Linked DNA regions of Homo sapiens: region 1 is linked to region 2. The links come from fine-mapping of genetic effects on gene expression. A gene starts in region 2. The other region holds a variant in brackets. All regions are shown on one strand. Distances are from middle to middle. Region 1 overlaps GABRB1 (gamma-aminobutyric acid type A receptor subunit beta1). Region 2 holds the start of COMMD8 (COMM domain containing 8).

The links. PIP is the estimated chance that this variant, and not a neighbour inherited with it, causes the effect.
Region 1: its variant is the best candidate, but not a certain one, in a credible set for the expression of COMMD8 in neutrophils (BLUEPRINT, PIP 0.85).

Annotation. Positions count from the first base shown.
Region 1 is chr4:47,410,126-47,412,625 of GRCh38, forward strand. The region is part of intron 8 of GABRB1 (gamma-aminobutyric acid type A receptor subunit beta1); the gene reads left to right. Among named protein-coding and RNA genes, the nearest start is that of COMMD8, 52 kb to the right of the region's middle. The variant G/A (reference allele first, on the strand shown) is at 1,380.
Region 2 is chr4:47,462,427-47,465,444 of GRCh38, forward strand. COMMD8 (COMM domain containing 8) reads right to left here and starts at 1,276. Exons shown (of 5, transcript NM_017845.5): 1 at 1,160-1,276. The coding sequence starts at 1,225. LOC107986277 (a long non-coding RNA gene) reads left to right here and starts at 1,457. Exons shown (of 3, transcript XR_001741683.3): 1 at 1,457-1,525. RefSeq lists a silencer at 1,007-1,266 and an enhancer at 2,915-2,964.

The sequences.
Region 1 (2,500 bases), 53 kb before region 2:
AAATTCCTCAACTGTCAGAAGACAATGCTTAAAGGAGATTTTTTTAAAATATGTTTTTATCCATGGAAAGTTAGACTACGAACTCCACAAATGATTTCCACAGAAAAATAGACATAATTCTGACAAAATTCAAAAACAAATCATATTAAAACAGGGCAGAGTACTTTGTATCAGAGTAATCCTCCTATTGATAGAAATAATAAACTGTGAGCACATTTTTAGAAATCTGCTTTAAGACATGGGAGAGTAACAAAACAAGCAAAAACTAAAAGAGAATCAACTTTCAAAAGGAAGGAACCACACTGTGTGAAATCCATGTTTATGCAGCTTTTCCCCTGAAGCCATGTCCCAGACTGAGGGATGTGGGGCAGCAAAACTTCAGCAGAAACTGAAGTTGTATTGACCTGAAGAGTCAGATCATGGAGTTTGATTGTTCCAGAGTTCCTGGAAATTTTAGAAGTGAGCCACAACAGAAACTCGACACCTGAGTGTAAACTTCCCCAGCTTGATCCCTGAGCTACAAATGTACAAATGTACAAATACCAAGGAGCACAGAAAGAAAAAATAGCTAGAAGCTGGGGGAAAGAAAAATGAACAGAGATTTTAGTTACTGTCCACTATATAAAAGTCAGAGTTTGGAGTTTGAATCCAGCCTGTTGGGGAGTGTGGGGGTGGTAAGCACATTAGGTTTTCCATAAAAATCTCAAGAGGCTTATACCTTAAGGGTAAAGATAAGTCACAAGAATAAGGGATTCCCCTTGGGTTAAGGGAAAATCTAAAATAGGCTCACCCTAATGACACATAAAACCAAGTCTCCACATATTCTGGATGATATGTTAGTCATATAACTGCCTACCAAACCAAACTCAACATTCTTTGGGGAAGATAGCAGAATTTAGAGTCTCTATGGTGCATCATTCAAAATATCCAATATATAGTAAAAAATTACTAGACATAAGAAGAAACAGGAAGATGTGACCATCATCAAGAGAAAAACATTTGTCAACAGAAACAGAGCAGTAAAAGTCTCAAATATTGGCCTAAAAGATAATTAGTATAAATAACTATAATTAGTGTATTTTAAAGTTCATAAGAAATAGCCCAAAACTGGAAACAGCCAAAATATCCTACAATAGATGAATGGTTAAACAAACTGTGGTATATACACACTATGGAGTACTATTCCAGTAAAAAAGAAATGAACTGTTGATACATGCAAAAACTTGGATGTCTCTCAAGGGCATTAGGTTGAGTGAAAAAAAACAGTATTAAAAGGTTATAATACTGTATTATTCCATTGATATAATACTCTTGAAATAACAAAATTATAGAGATGGAGAACAGATTAGTGGTTGCCGGGAGTCAGTGATAGTGAGGAA[G/A]GATGTGGGATGGGTATGACTGATTATAAAGAACTAGTGTGAGGGAGATCATTGCAGTAATGGAATAGTTCTGTAACTTAATTGGAATGCTTGTTACATGAATCTACATATGCAATAAAATTACACAGAACTATACACACTTTATGTCAATGTCACTTTCCTGACTTTGATATTATATCATAGTTATGTAAGATGTAATCAGTTGGAGAACCTGGGTGAGGGGTACATGGGGCCCCTCTGTGCTATCTTCACAACTTTCTGGGAATCTGTAATAGTTTCCAAATAAAAAGTTTAAGAGAAAGTCAGTAGGAAAAATTGATATAGTGTATAAAGAAATGGGGAGTTTCAGAAGATAGTTGAAACTATAAAAGTGGAACAATGGAAATCATAGAATTAAAATTTTTATTAGATGAATTAACATCACATTGTATACAACAGAAAAAAATGATTAGCGAAATTGAAGGTCATATTGGGCTTCTCTCAATTTCTCAATTGTAGCAGTTCTTACCATAAATGCTACTACTTTGGGGTTGCCTTAATAGACACTCTCACTCTTGATTTATTATTTGGTATCGCTGTTAATTGTTCTTATGGGATCCTGTGCTTTTCCACAATAAGACTTCCATGATAGTGAGTATATGTTTATTTGTATAATTATCTTTTAACATCTGTTTCTCCTTTTAAGCTACAGCTTCCCAATTATACACCCCAGAGCCCTTGTCTTTTACATTCATTGTTCTTTCCTCAGTAGCTAAAATGTAGATAACAAATAAGTACTTGTTGAATGAATGAATTAATTAATTAATACTGGAGAGTTGTTCTCCATTTTAGATGTTTTTAGAAATCACGCATTCAGTGTTACACTATGTTTTATAAAACTCGTACATATTCATAATAAGTAAGAAAAAGAGACTATACTCCACTTCAGCTTCTGCTCCAGACTGTCTTACTGTTCCTATCATTTTTATTTTCAAAAAAAAATTTAAACATGCTTTATATCAACCTCTGGTATTCTTTTTGAATCACTGTGCCATATAGCATTACATGTAATCTTTAAAGGAGCATTATGGCTAAGATTTTGAAATGGCACTGTTCGTCTGGGAGTAACGCCCAAGGTTCAT
Region 2 (3,018 bases):
AGGGGGAAAGAAGAGCTGAGGCAAGGGCATACTGAATTTGAGGTACCTGTGGCAGAAGCCTGACACTCAGGGAAGAGATTTTGGTTTGGGGTTTTTGGGGTTTTGTTTTGTTTTTTACCTGGCATTCTTGAACCATAGAGGAAGAAATTTTTGGCTGGACCTAAAGATTTAGAAGTCATCGACATATATGGTAATAAAGGTTATGGGCCTTATCTAAATGGGTAGAGTGAAGACAAGGAGAGCCAAAAGCCAATAAAACACTCAGAATCAACAGATCTGAGCATAAGTTCCAGCTCTGCCACTAACTGGATGGGCAATCCTGGGCAAGTTAGCCAAAATTTCTGCTGACATTTCAGGTTCCTCACTTGCAAAAACAAAGAAAAGAATTAGGTGTTTTTTTTTCTTGACCCTGGCAGGAGGTAAGTTCATTCCTTTCTGTCTCCTCCACACTTTCTCCAGTATAAATGGAATAGAGGAAACAGGAAGCCAAAATTGAGACTTATAAAAAAGATGCTCCACCAGGGCACAGGCTGTGTCTCACTCACCATTTACCTCATCCCATCGGGGCGCTCAATCTATGGTAGACTTCAATGAAAAACTGGCTGAACAAATGAATGTGGTTGCTTTTTCCAGATTCTTACAAGCCAGGTTCTTTTACAGACTGGAAGTCAATGGGTACATCACCTCTTGGGACGATCCTAACTAAAGTAACTCGCCCAGTTATTTCTCTTCCTACCAACCACCCTCAAGGGGGGAGGCAGGGTCCGCTTCGGTCTTTGTCACATTGTATTCCAGCACCTAGCTCTGTACCTGCTGTCCGGTAGGTAGGGAGCCTTTGGGAGGTTATGTGTTGAATGAATTAAGAAAACGTATACTAAGAGGCAGCAAACACCGACTTAAGCTTTCAAAGCCCAGTCTGGTGTGGGCGCTTCTGCGCGCAAAGCCCCTGGAGCTGCACCTCTAGGCTGGGGGTGGCGCCCCAAGCTGTCCTCCTAGGCTCCCCAGGGAAGGCGGGGACCAACCACCCGAAATCACGCCCCTTCCTCCTCCCTTCCCTAGGGAGCTTGCGAAGGCGTCCGGGTCGCACCCGGCCTGATCCGCACGCCGGGCTGTCGCGAATCCCAGGCCCCGCGCCGCTTCCCCCGGTACCCGCCCTCACCTGCGGGCCCAGCTCGGCCGGCAGCTTCTGCAGCCGCCACAAGGGCGTCCCCTCTTCCGGCTCCATCCCTGCGCGAAGCTGGGGCTTGGGTCACGTGTCAAGGCTGGCCGCTTGTCTAAAGCTACGACTCGCCCACGTGACTCTCGCCGGCGGGGAGGGGCGTGGACCCAAGAAGTCCCTGTGCGCTTGCGCAGAGACCGAACTACCGCTTTCCCCGTAACCAGGGAGACTGCAGTTTGCAGTGATGTGGCTAAGATACCCTTGTGCTATTAAAGGCACATTTACGTATCTTTCAACGCAGTTTGTACCTTTGTTTAGGGTTCTATTGAACTTTCTCTGTGCTCTTTAGAAAACCGTCGAATAAAGGTAACCATCTTTTTGGGTGCCTGGGCATGGTCATTGTCCCAGAGTTTTAACAGAAGTCTCTACTAAAGTATCCTGATTTGCAAGGTAAATTAAGGTTTTGCCATGAGCAACGTTCTGTATATAGATCATCCTAGGGAGAAGGTACTATTTTCAGCCCTATTTGCAGAAAGCAAACATGATTAGAGAAGTCACTAAGGTTGTCAGATTTAGCAAATGAAAATACCAAGCGTCCAGTTAAATGTGAAATTTCAGATAAACAATAATATTTTGTTGTAAGTATCCCCTAAATATTGTATGGGATATATTTATACTGAAAATTATTTGTCCATCTGAAATTCAAATTTAACTGGTGTCCTGTATTTTATCTGGCAACGCTAAAAATCACTGACCTAAGTAAGAGGCCCAGTCTGAAGTTAAACAAAATCAATCAGACTCAAGAGCCATGCTATTAATGTTGGACTAAGCTCAAAGTCCAAATATCCTTTCTGTTATTTCTTATTACAGCTGTTACTTTAATCAGGTGCTGAAGAATTCAGTGGTGGTAAAATGAGCATGTCCTGCAAAAGCGGATAATAATAACTAGTAGACCAGAAACAGGAATTACAATCTAATTTATAAATTTAATAATAAAAGTGGTGCAAAATGGTGAAGCAGAAGAGAAAGTATTCAATCTATGGGCTACGCAGAGAAAAACTACTCATTAGCAGCATTCTAGGTTTACCTCCTACGTCCTTTCTCTGTGTGCCTCAACTCTAAAAGGTGAAGTCAATTTCTTTCTCCCGTGAGTTTTCATGATATTTTAGCTGTCCCTCACTTATTTACCACTTTCTAGTTCTTAATGCAGATAGATGCACAACACTCATTGCCCTATCTTAAATGTAATTGTCTTAAGATACTTTGTGAATAGGAGCTCCCCTAGTAATAGTTAAAATGAGAAGTCTGGAAAACTACTTCACCTGAGTCTTTCTGTAAATCTAATGATGGGTAAGGTCTATTTTGAGAAAAAAACTTAAATTTTATGTATTATAATAATTGGGAGAAAAGTACTTTCAAGCATCTACTATATGTCAAACCCTTCATATATTTTTATCTTACTAATTCCTGCTACAGCCTTGTACAGTGGGTATTACAGATGAGGAAATGAACTTGAAGTAATATATTTTGTAAGGTCACATAGATAGTAGTTACAAAATCACTGGTCTGAGGCCAGAAACGGTGATCTCAGTTTGCATGCTTGACTACCCCTGCTGAGGAACTGAAATGATATGGCTTACCTAAGGCCACGTAACATGACTAAATAAGGTAAAATGACACACCTAACAGGGCCCAAGGTTTAGTCAGAGGACAGAGAATTAGGTCCTAACTCATCTTTCAAGCAACACTGAGTACTAAGAAGAATTTGATCTTTACTCTTGAATTTGGATGGGACAAAATTTAGCCTGCAACAAATATGGTTTCCAAAATAGTTAACAACTTGCAAGAGAGACAGCGCT